Regions from separate parts of the Homo sapiens genome. Here all the other regions are reported to be linked to region 1. The links are microRNA targets in miRTarBase. Many come from high-throughput screens and were not tested one by one. Region 1 holds a microRNA gene; each other region holds the end of a gene's coding sequence.
What was found. The annotated mature microRNA hsa-miR-30b-3p reads CUGGGAGGUGGAUGUUUACUUC and lies in region 1 at 1,453-1,474, opposite strand. An mRNA with a match to its seed (bases 2 to 7 or 8) in the 3' UTR can be bound and repressed. Matches are read on the target gene's strand: a 7mer-m8 pairs with bases 2 to 8, a 7mer-A1 pairs with bases 2 to 7 and ends in A, and an 8mer does both.

Region 2: miRTarBase lists SCAND3 as a target of hsa-miR-30b-3p. Seed matches in the 3' UTR shown: 7mer-m8 at 1,705-1,711.
Region 3: the mRNA of SNTN is a reported target of hsa-miR-30b-3p. Seed matches in the 3' UTR shown: 8mer at 1,735-1,742.
Region 4: the mRNA of PGBD4 is a reported target of hsa-miR-30b-3p. Seed matches in the 3' UTR shown: 7mer-m8 at 803-809.

Annotation. Positions count from the first base shown.
Region 1 is chr8:134,799,080-134,802,326 of GRCh38, forward strand. MIR30B (microRNA 30b) reads right to left here and starts at 1,528; the gene lies at 1,441-1,528. It also overlaps a transcript of ZFAT not described here.
Region 2 is chr6:28,569,380-28,572,626 of GRCh38, forward strand. It overlaps SCAND3 (SCAN domain containing 3), which reads right to left. Exons shown (of 4, transcript NM_052923.2): 4 at 1,156-3,247. The coding sequence ends at 2,532. Among named protein-coding and RNA genes, the nearest start is that of SCAND3, 16 kb to the right of the region's middle.
Region 3 is chr3:63,663,502-63,666,748 of GRCh38, reverse strand. SNTN (sentan, cilia apical structure protein) reads right to left here. Exons shown (of 4, transcript NM_001080537.2): 4 at 1,537-2,812. The coding sequence ends at 2,654. Among named protein-coding and RNA genes, the nearest start is that of SNTN, 12 kb to the right of the region's middle.
Region 4 is chr15:34,103,931-34,106,930 of GRCh38, forward strand. It overlaps PGBD4 (piggyBac transposable element derived 4), which reads left to right. Exons shown (of 1, transcript NM_152595.5): 1 at 1-3,000. The coding sequence ends at 359. Among named protein-coding and RNA genes, the nearest start is that of PGBD4, 3.3 kb to the left of the region's middle.

The sequences.
Region 1 (3,247 bases):
TAAAACAGCTCTCTCGTAATGACAAAGAAAATTAACAAATTATTCATTAAACAAATAAAATATATAATTAGAAAAACAGCACTCACCTTCAACAAGTCTCCATGCTTTCATTTCACATTTTTATTTAATCATGTATTTCTCATAACATTTAGACATCTTCCACAGGAGCACCAAGCATGAATTCTAATTCTGGATTTAGGCACAGGCAAGAGCATACAGACACTTGCCAAGCTGCTAGGATGTGTGTACTTCTTACATAATTTTCGTTTTATACTTGTTTGTTTTGCTTTTCACCTATACAGAATGTGGATGTATCACCAAAAAAAGAAAAGGCAGGCTGATTTCATGGAACTGAAAAACAAAGCTATAAAAAATTAATTTTCAGTATTTTAAGTAAAGACATGAAAATGGAAATAACGTTTAGACCAATCAGTACATATATAGAACTAATTATCAGGTATTAGCTTATTTTTAAATTGTTACCTCATTTAGTCTCAACAATCCTATCAGGTAGGTGCTATTATAATTTCAATTTAGTCGACTGAGGAAACTGAGGCACAGAGAGATTAATAACTTCCCCCAAAGTAACATAGCGAAGTAACTCGCAGAATCAAGATATGAGCTCCAGAAGCTGGGATTCAAAATTCTTTGCCACTATATTACAACAATATCAAAGATTCAAAGCATTTCCATTAAACCAAAAAGTTGGCATCATCTTTATTGCAAAAATAAAAACAAGTTATGTCTGCTTTAAGCATTATGGCAACTATTTACTGAACACCTACAACACAGCATTAATAATAACTAGCATTTATTGAGTACTTAATATGACAGGTACTGTACTAATGAACAACTTTATATTCATCATGTAAGTCAATCCATGCAATCACATACTTATTTTACAGATGAGAAAACCACTGAGGTATGGAAACAGTGCCTTTCCCTCCTCCAAATCCCGTAGCAAATTCACTTGTGGAGTCCAGATGGCAACAAATGTCTGATGTCAAAGCCCATGCTTGTTAAAGCACACTGCAATACTACAAACCCGACCCCAACTACCAAACAAGGGCATTCTTTTGTCCCAATACCCAGAGCCTTATGTCATGTTAGTGCTATAGCAAAATTGAAAAGATACAATAAAAATTTAAATTGAGTAACAAATTTAAAGGAATTTTAATAAATTTAGAGTAATTTTTCCTCTATAAGCATACTGTTTTTCTGTTTTAACTACTCCTACTGCAACCATGCTTTCTTCTGCTTTTCTCTGCAAACATATTCAAGTAGATCCCTGCCAGCTAGACAATTAACACACTTTTTCTCTGGGAGAACAAAATGGTCTCACATTTCCAACAAACCTTTAATTACATTAATTACATTAAAAATTCAAGCCTCTGTATACTATTCTTGCCAAATCTTTTATCAATGTTAATTGGTTGACATTCCAAGTCAGCTGAAGTAAACATCCACCTCCCAGCCAATCCATGTATTACAGCTGAGTGTAGGATGTTTACATGAACTGAAACTTGGTTTAAAGCAGGACTTAAACTCTTTACTAAGTTTGTACGGTTCTTTACGTAAGACTCTGTTGAAAAAAAGAACAGGCACAGCATTCACATAAATGAGGCAAGACTCAATCGGAAAGATATCCTGAGAGAAAGTGTAGAATCCAAGGAAAAGGCAGAAGTGAGTTGGGTGTTTGTTTTTTTGGAAGTGGGGGCGTGTCCAGGGCAGTGGGGGGCACTACAGGCACGCTACTATGCCCGGCTAATTTTTCTTATTAATAAAATTTTTTTTAGAGACAAGGTCTCACTATATTGCCCAGGCTAGTCACAAACAAGTGATAACGTTTTTCACCAAAGGAATTTACAACAATAAATGCCGACATCCTGTAGTGTTCCATATCTAAATGTAGCTGATTATCCAGCCTTCCTATATCCTTCCCTTCAAAACAATCAAACTTGCATTTATAAGAACTTACTTGATGACCAGTATGATGCATCAACCAATCTTCATTAAGAAGATTCCTCCTTTAGGTAAAAGACAGTTAATGAAACACTGTGAGGAGCTTAGTCATCTCTCCTCCCCCTCAACCCTCTCCTCATCTTCTCCCCCACATTCAGAATTCAGATAATTTCATCTCAGGCACATCTTTCCCACACTCTGATCTCTTTCCACCTTCTACTGTTCCCAGTGTCATTAAGGTGTCTCAAAGAAATGTCTCCCCCTCTTTTTGCATTCTTTCTGATTAAAAATATATTCCCACAAATATCTCCACTAACTATTATCAGTGGTCCTACCAACACACTTGCATCAAAGAAGAGGAAATCTTCAAATTTGGAAGTAAAACTACATATAATAACCACTGCCAGCAAACTTTAAAAATCTTTGGCATTTCACAGGTAACCCAGGACTTTCAGGAACCTCGCCAGTCTCTACCTAGTCTCTTGTCCCTTCGGGCTGTTTTCCAAAAGCATTGGTTCTCAAGATTAAATACACATATACCTCCCCGCCACCCCACTCTACAACCATACTGCTTTTCTGTTTTAACTACTTCTATTACAACCGTATTTTTTTCTTCTGCTTTTCTCTGAAAACACATTCAAATAGGCCCCTCCCAGCTAGACAATTAATATACTTTTTCTCTGGGAGAAAAAATGGTCTCACATTTTCAACAAACCTTTTTATAATCAAACTTCTGGATTAATACATGTTTTTAAGTTAAGGATTTTTCTGTTTTACTTCATGTATTAATTGGGCATAATATCTAGCAGGAAAAGAATGTAAGATGAGCTCTGTGATTCTGAAAGCATGGGCCTAGAGGAGCAGCATCAGCAGTACTTGGGAACTGTGGGGGGAAAAGCACATTCTTATGTTCCACCCCAGACCTACTGAATCAGAAACTTTTTTTGCAGGGCCCAGCAATCTGTGTTTTAATCAATAAGCCCTCCAAGTAATTCTGATGCAAGCTGATATTGAACAGCAATGGACTGTTTCACCAAACCTGTTGGAAAGCTAAAGCAAAGACAGCAGTGAATGTCAAATTACTAGGAAGTTTGTAATATGGTACAGATAAGAAAAAGGCAATGCCAAAACATGTAGCATGGGTCCACCCACAATTAACCAGGCTAGGCAAAGTGTGGCAGAGACTATCTGAAACAGCCTTATTTTAAAAAGTAACTAAGCCCAAACTGATATTCAAACTAAAAAAAAGAAACAAAAATATTACCTGAGCACACACAGCAAATAA
Region 2 (3,247 bases), not on the chromosome of region 1:
CCAATCTGGAAATAAAATACAAGTCTTTCCTTCCTGAAGGCATCTTCAATCACTACCAGTGATTCCTTTGGCAGAAAGCACAATTTTGGGAGCTAGTTCTACGACTTCTTAATCATCCTTCAAGTTAGGTCTGGGTGTGTGCATGGAGGCAGTGGGTGGTGGGGTTTTCTGATTCTAGTCATTGTCAGATTTCTTTAAAAAGTGAAGTACTTAGCGTTCCCTTGACCCATCTTTGACTCCTCCCTAGTTGCTGTTCTTTGAGTAATAGGAAAAGCCCAACACAACCTCCTGTTATACATAAATACAATTTTTTAAAACCAGCACATATATACATGATAGATGGAAATAAACAGTACTGCATACAGTAGTTGTAAGTATACACAAATAAAGATACCTTTGCATTGTATTCATATACCACGTTTATAGACATGTGAACTTGCTGCAAAACAAGCAGAAAATAGGAAGAGAAAATCAGGTTATCTACAGAATCACTAGTCATCAAATTCACGTTAAGAATAGGCAGTAAGATTTCATGATCTCAATAAAAATCTCAATAAAGCTGTTGCCCTAAAAAAATTTACAGTGAGACAATAAAACAGGGAGGTAAGGGAGGAAAGACAAATATTCCTATGTCTTAAAAAAAAGGTAAAGCAAGTTAGCCTCCTGGCACTGAATCATTTGCAGAAAAAAATAAAAATAGTTGTTCAAGTATATGAGAAGGCTTTGTACCAATCTCAGACATCCAATACTTTATATTTCTTAGAGAGAAAGTGAAGGCTTTGTACCAATCTCAAACATCTAATACTTTATATTTCTTAGAGAGAAAGTAAGGGAATTTAGTTCTCTTTTAATATGTACTCTTAATTCCCTCTTAATTTCTTCCAGACTACTTTAAGTTTTTATAGAAATAAATATAAAATCACCACATTGCCTTTTGAAATTAAAAATGGGAAACACAATACTTTATTCAATCAATAAAACAAACTGTAAAACATTTTAAAATCCCTTAGTTCTAGAATATGGTCAGATAAGAAAGAGGGCATATAATTTGTCAGTGGGAGAAATTAAACCACTGTCTTCTAAATCTATCCACCATGATAAGGTTTTTTGTTTTTGAAAAGCTGTAAGATTAAAACAAACACACAATAAAACATAATCCAATTAAGGTTTCAGGACTAAATATGAACCTTTCCTCTACTTTCAAAGGTTTGGAGGATCCTTGAAACTTCCATTACCAAAAGGTTAAATTATTAGTAACATTCTGAATCACTAAATAGCCTTCCTTTCCTTAACTTTGAATATCACATTTATTTGAAACGAAGCACTTACTGTAAATTGCTACCCTGTCTAGGAAAAGATATTTTCTTCATGGATTCTGTCATGTTTTGATGCTAAAGAACCTGTTTTATCGGACTAATTTGCTTTCGATTATTCTAAATGAGTTCACAGACACAAGAGCAGATATTTGTGGCATTTTTCTGAATCATCTCCAAACAAAATAGAGGTTGTTAAATCTAATTGAGGTGCCAATAATTTCTGACTTTGTCCCAGAGCACCTTAAAGGCAATCAGTTCTAGCAAAATCTAGAAACCACCTAACATAAACTTGTCAGTATGGCCCAATCGCCCATCCTTATGAAATCAGAATTTATCGGCCGGGCGCAGCAGGTCACGCCTGTAATCCCAGCACTTTGAGAGGCCGAGGTGGGAGGGTCATCTGATGTCAGGAGTTCAAGATGAGCCTGGCCAACATGGTGAAACCCCATCTCTACTATAAATACAAAAATTAGCCAGGCATGGTGGTGGGTGCCTGTAATCTCAGTTACTCGGAAGACTGAGGCAAGAGAATCACTTGAACCCAGGAGGTACAGGTTGCAGTGAGCAGAGATTGCACCAATGCACTCCAGCCTGGGCAACAGAGCAAGACCCTGCCTCAAAAATAAATAAGTAAATAAATTTATCAATATGAATCCAAGGCCATAACACCATTACAAAATAAGTGTTCCCTTCCATCTTTGTCTAAACATGCACCTACAAAACAAACAACATCAACTTCCAACCTAACCACTCTGGATCAGTTTAACAAACTTCATACCCTACTGACCTGTCCCCTGCATTTGAATTCTAAGCCTACCCCTTTGAATTCACTTCCTTTCACTGACCTTGTCTATTTCAAAGAAACCATCTCCCATCCTGAAGTTGTCCTACAATCTTAACATGCTAATGAAATACAAGAAGAAGACACAAAATATAAGATCAAATGTTTTAATATTAGAATCAACAGATTTAAAATTATATTTTAATAAATACGACAAATATGAGGAAAAATAGAATTATAAAAACTGTACACATTCTTAATTGAAAATATACATATAGGCAATTTATATAGAAAATTGCTGTTTCACTCATAACTTCTCATACTTCCATAACTGTAACTAGACAGAAAGTTTAAAGTGAAATAGCAAATTCCTCACACTCAATGCTTATATGCATACTTTGAACCAATACCTTACATATCAATATTTAAAGCTTTTAATGTGATAAGTGAGCTTGCTTCTTGCTTGTTAATTTGTCTAATCTAGGTTGGATTGATGACAATGCTACCCTCAGGGGATAATGTATATTTAAACTGTTTCTATGTTTTGTTTTAATAACACTTAAAGTAGAGAATCCGGTCTCACAGAGGTATGTTGAGGGGAAAAGAAGCAGCAATTTTAAAGCAATCTCAGCAAGCTCAGGATAGTCATTTTTAGCTTTTATCCAAAATGAAGGAAGTGATGCTGTATTTTCAAAACTGATTTTCAATCCTTCGTCGGTAGCCAGCTTCAACAACTTATCCTGTAGAGTTACAGTTAAATTTAAGTTATCTTTTGATGAAAGAAATGGATTTTGGATCCACAAATTTCCTATGCGTGGATCTTCTTTTGATGGAAAATAAAATTCAAAACATTCTAACAAATTTGTAAGATGTTCACTGATAACTTTTCGCAGATGTGCAATATCAAGATCATTACCTACTTCATTGATAATTGTTGTTAAATTATGAAACATGTCATAACAATCTGTAGAAATTCTGTTTTTCCAAGCTTCTAACTTCTGTTTTTGTCCTTCAACTTTATCTGCCATTGAAAAATAAGTTGCATTCTTCCCTTGCATAGAAGCATTAAGATCATTAAAAATACTGAAGATATCAGACAAATAAGCAAGTCTGGCTGTCCAATTCACATCTTTAAAAAGTTGGGACCACA
Region 3 (3,247 bases), not on the chromosome of region 1:
GTCTGAGCTTTGGAAGTGGGGAGGGCCAGGGAGTTGGGTTCTGGTGGATCTGGAAAACGACAGGATGAAGCAACACTTCACCAGAGCAAGGCTGAAGGTTTCTCTCTGGAAAGGATTTTTTTGTTTGTTTGTTTGTTTGTTTGAGATGGAGTTTCACTCTTGTTGCCCCGGCTGGAGTGCAATGGTGCGATCTTGGCTTACTGCAACCTCTGCCTCCTGGGTTCAAGTGATTCTCCTTCCTCAGCCTCCTGAGTAGCTAGGATTACAGGCATGTGCCACCACACCTGGCTAATTTTGTATTTTTAGTAGAGATGGGGTTTCTCCATGTTGGTCACACTGGTCTCAAACTCCTGACCTCAGGTGATCTGCTCGCCTTGGCCTCCCAAAGTGCTGGGATTACAGGCGTGAGCCACTGTGCCTGGCAGATTTTCTTAACATAGGTTATGAGGCATACAATGTTGGGCTGGGAAGAAAATGAGAGGTGAGGGATAACTTGGGAAGTTATAATAATTTTACAGTGAATAACCGTCTTTTTTTCTGGTAAAATATTTATTTCTTTCTTCAGCAAGATGTCTGTATCAGTTTGTCTGGGCTTCTGCTCTAAACTGGCCTCCCTCAGGACCCAGGCTAAAGGAGCAGCCTCCATGGGGCATGTTGCCAGTTATCACAGCCCAGGGAAGCAGGGCAGTGAATTGACCCAGGCTCTCAAAGCCTCCACCTGGAAGTGGCATATTTCACTTCAGCTCAGATGTCACTGGTCAAAGGATGGGCACACTCAACTGTAAGGAAACAGAGAAGTAAAGTCCTACCATGCATTTGACAGGATTATAGAATAGCTCCAATAGACCACATTTACATACATGTTTTGCCAGCCATAAACTCCTGGAAGGTAAAGACTGTGACTCGTTCCTCTTTGCCTCTCTCTTGGCAACAGCCTGCGGTAGAAGTGCAATACATGTTAGGTGACTGCCTGCCTGATTGTGGAACTTAGCAAGTGACTGGAACAAAATGGGAATCAAAGCCGGAAAACTATGTCTCCTGTTTCTCCTCCCCTTTTGGCACCTCTTTGCTTCTGCCAGGATTCTGACTCTGAAATTGATTGCCTCAATGATCCTGGACCATCATTTAGCTACTGTAATCCTCAGTTCCTGCAGTTGGAAAGGGGGAACATTATTACTCCCATGTAAAGATAGAGTAAGATGGCATCTCTGAAAGCCAGGGTTGATGAAGGCTTGTGCCTCTGGCTGTTGCCCAGTGCCCGCTCTGGGGACCTTGAGTGCCCATTGCCATATGCTGAGCTACCCTACTGGGGCCTGCTGTCCTCAAGTGAGGTCCTACATGAATAAAAATCTTTGTGAGAGTCTACCTTAAAGGTTCAGGCGTTGACTATATGTGTGTATGTAATTTATATTCAGGAATACAGGAGGTGGTCATGGGAGTCGGTGTGGGTCTCTGGGATATGACTACTTTTACATCATAATCCCAAGGAATTGTTGGTTAAATTGTGTTCAGAGATTACAAGAATACTGGGTTTTATTTTTTTGTTAAGTCAGATTTATTTAGGTATAATTGACATACAGTACAATTCACTCTTTTCAGTGTGCAGTTCTATGAGTTTGACAAATGCATGCAATCTTGTAGCCACCACCTCACAATCAAAATGGAGACCATTTCCAGCCCCCTTAAAAGTCCCCTTGGCCAGACTTGGTGGCTCAAGCCTGTAATCCCAGCACTTTGGGAGGCTGTGGGCGGATCACCTGAGGTCAGGAGTTCGAGACCAGCCTGGCCGACATGGCGAAACCCCGTCTCCACTAAAAATACAAAAAAAATTAGCCTGGCATCGTGGCACACGCCTGTAATCCCAGCTACTCAGGAGGCTGAGGCAGGAGAATCACTTGAACCTGGGAGATCGAGGTTGCAGTAAGCTGAGATCGTGCCATTGCACTCCAGCCTGGGCAACAAGAGCAAAACTCTGTCTCAAAATAAAATAAAATAAAATAAAATAAAATAAAATAAAAAACTCCCCTTGTGCCATTTGTGGACAGCCCCATTTCCCACCCATATCCCTGGCATCCATGGACCAATTTTTTTTTTTTTGCTTTTTATAGAATGTCAGTAAAGCTTTTCTGACCTTTGAACTCCGATCAGGTGATAATCTCTTTTAGCATCCTATAGCCCTTATTTCAATTCTAATTATACTGTGTATGCAATTATTTAAAAATTGTTCAATGTCTATCTCTTCTGCTAGACTTCTGCAAACATGTCTGAAGGAAGGAATTGCCTGGCCAATTCATTACTGTATCCTCAGCAGTTCCATCAAGTAGATGCTCAACAAATGTTTAGTGAATAAATGAGTGACTCAATGACTATAAGTAGAGTGCTCTAGGTCGCTACTGACTCAGCAAAAGCCATTTATTATTCAGTGGTATCAAATCTATCCTATTGTAAAGCACACAGAGACCTTATCATTCAAACATTCTTGAAGTGTATGGGTAAATATTTGGAGTTACATTGGATCTGAATACCAGCAATCAGAACCATCCTAGGCAATTTCAGATGCATGATAGATATATTCAATTAATCAAAAATAAGATGGAAACATTTTAATAACACTGTCTTTTGCCATTATTTTATACAGCATATTTAAAACTGTTCATTTCATAATTTTTACATTCCGTATATTTTGTAGCAGATCTGACATGACAGTGATGCTTAAGAGCAAGATCATGAAGTCTTCAAAATCTAGCTTATTTTCTGTGTGCTCATCAAGTTCAGAAAGGATCTCTCTGTATTTTGGCTTGGTTTCTTGTCCCTGTGAGAATGGAGAAATAAAAACCGAATTCGTTGTATAGACTTTAGGTTTACAGATCATAAACAATAATGTCTTAGTCTGTTTAGTGTTGCTGTAATAGAATACCTGAGACTGAGTGATTTATAAAGAAAAAAGAAAAATTTGGCTTACAATTCTGATGGCTGGAAAGTTCAAGATCAGGCATCTGCATGTGGTGAGGACCTCAGGCTGCTTCCACTCATGGTAGAAGGTGAAGGGGAGCTGGTGTATGAACAGATCACACAGCAAGAGAGGGGGCAAGAGGAGGAGGGAGGGTTCCAGGCTCTTTTAAACAACCAGCTCTTGTGGTAACTAACAGAGTGAGAACTCACTCACCACCCCCAAGGCAGGGCATTCATTTATTCAAGAAAGCTCTGTCCCCATGACTTCAAACACCTCCCATAAGGCCCCACCTCC
Region 4 (3,000 bases), not on the chromosome of region 1:
CCTACATCCTGTTCAAGAAGGATAATCCTGAGCACACGATGAGCCATATAAACTTCAGACTGGCATTGATTGAAAGAATGCTGGAAAAGCATCACAAGCCAGGGCAGCAACATCTTCGAGGTCGTCCTTGCTCCGATGATGTCACACCTCTTCGTCTGTCTGGAAGACATTTCCCCAAGAGCATACCAGCAACGTCCGGGAAACAGAATCCAACTGGTCGCTGCAAAATTTGCTGCTCCCAATACGACAAGGATGGCAAGAAGATCCGGAAAGAAACGCGCTATTTTTGTGCCGAATGTGATGTTCCGCTTTGTGTTGTTCCGTGCTTTGAAATTTACCACACGAAAAAAAATTATTAAATACCGATCATCATACACATCTGTTCCATTAGGATTAGAGACAAGTTCTGTTTAGAAATAACTCCAAGATTGGGAGGCCGACCTGGGTGGATCACCTGAGATCAGGAATTCAAGACCAGCCTGGCCAACATGGTGAAACCCTGTCTCTACTAAAAATACAACAATTAGCTGGATGTGGTGGCACATGCCTGTAATCCAAGCTACTTGGGAGGCTGAGGCAGGAGAATTGCTTGAACCCATGAGGCGGAGGTTGCAGTGAGCTGAGATCACACCACTGCACTCCAGCCTGGGTGACATAGCGAGACTCCATCTCAAAAAAAAGAAATAACTCCAAGAACAGTTTTGTTGTTTTTGTTTTGTTTTGTTTTGTTTTGAGACGGAGTTTCACTCTTGTTGCCCAGGCTGGAGTGCAATGGCATGATATTGGCTCACTGTAACCTCCACCTCCCAGGTTCAAGCGATTCTCGTGCCTCAGCCTCCCTAGTAGCTGGGATTACAGGCATGTGCCACCACACCCACCTAATTTTGCATTTTTAGTAGAGACTGGGTTTATCCATGTTGGTCAGGCTAGTCTTGACCTCCCGACCTCAGGTGATCCGCCTATCTGGGCCTCACAAAGTCCTGGGATTATAGGCATGAGCCACTGCGCCTAGCACCAAGAACAGTTTTTATATTTTATTTTCACATTGAAAATCAGTCAGATTTGCTTCAGCCTCAAAGAGGGTGTTTATGTAAAACTAAATGAGTGCAGGCAGCGAGCTACACTTTTTTTTTTCCTAAATGGAAAATGGGAAGGAGATACTGTCTCTGAACAAAAATAGCTGGAAAAACACATAACTGTTAACTAAGGGTTGCCTCTAGTGAAAAGGATTGGAAGACAATTTATCTGATGCTACACTATTCTTCCTGTTGTGATTGTTTTACTGTGAACATAACAAGGTTGTATTGGGGAGGAGGGCAGGGGTTGATTGCTGCCAATGTTGATTGCTGAGGCCTTAGCCAAGATTTCAGGCATCATTTGCTCCAGTCCTTTCATTTTCTTTATGGTGGAAAGTGAAGTGACTTGCCCAAGATCTTTGTTGGCCCTAAACATCGCTGTCTCTGCTACAGATTCCTATTGAGAGCAATGCATGTTTTAGCCTTGTGCACTCTTAGAGTCAGCATCATGGGAAAGAGTAACAGCAATTGAAAAAAGAGATTCAAGAGCCAAGTACTCAGCCCTGGCAGGGGATGGGGACATGATGCCCAGAGCCACCCCTATACTCCAGTCTCCCTGGCATCAGCTACTGCAGTACTGGGGTACTTGCCTTCATCTTTTTTCTGAAGATAGTTACTTCTTCATATTTGATCATCGGAAGGAGCAGCATTGCTCAGAAACACACACACACACACACACACTTGACTTTCTTGTCTGCCAAATAAATTTCTTATTTGCTAGGGAACTGGTAATCTAGGCTCAAGAAGTGTGTGGAGAAGGTTTATTTTCATTCTTTTTACTTTAAAATATGCCTTAGTTTTTGAATAGATAAGACATTCAAGTGTCAGAAAGTAAAAGTCAGTTCAGGACTGAGAAAGGAAAGATCAGTGCTGATTTTAATCAGACTGTAATGTACCAACTAGATACAGACAGGGCCAGTGGCAAGGCCATCAGAAAACTTCTTCCCAAGGCCACACCACACCTGCAAAATGCCTAACAACCTTCTTCTTTTCAGTGATTACCACTTTCTTACCAATGACTTCGCTTTGTTCCTCGTGCCTCTGAACAGACTGCTGAGATACCCAATCAAGAGCCAATCCTTGCTTCCCTAGACTCTCCTCAATCATTCAACAGAAGCCCAAATCTTGTAAAAGTTCCTTTCTGGGCCGGGCACAGTGGCTCACGCCTGTAATCCCAGCACTTTGGAAGGCCGAGATGGGCGAATCACAAGGTCAGGAGTTTGAGACTAGCCTGGCCAACATGGTGAAACCCTGTCTCTACTAAAAATACAAAAAAAAATTAGCTGGGCATAGTGGTGGGTGCCTGTAATCCCAGCTACTTGGGAGGCTGAGACAGGAGAATCACTTGAACCCGGGAGGCAGAGGTTGCAGTGAGCCAAGATCGCACCACTGCACTCCAGCCCTGGCGACAGAGTGAGACTCCATCTCAAAAAATAAAAAAGTTTCCTTCTGTTCCCTCTTACTGTTATATCCTTGGTTTCTCTGGTGTGGGGTCTTCCTTACAGCAGCAAGCTCATAAACTTAACTTGACCGCAGGTGTGTTCCTTGGTGGTCTTTATCTGATAGACTTTGTCACATGGTACAATATTCAAAAGGCACATGGTACAATATTCAAAAGGCACATGGTACAATATTCAAAAGGTATGAGTATACAAAAAAAATCTCCCACCTACTTCTCTCCCTAGTCACCCAATTCTCAAGAGGCAATCACTGTTGCCATTTTCCTGAGTATTCTTCCACAGATAGTCAACTATCTACAGAAAAATATATACATTAAAAATAAGGCCAGGCACAGTGGCATGCCTGTAGTCCCAGCTACTCAGAAGGTTGAAGCAGGAGGATCACTTGAGGCCAGGAGGGCCAGGAATTTGAAGCTGTAGTGTGCTATGATAGCAGGCCTGTGAATAGCCATTGCACTCCATCC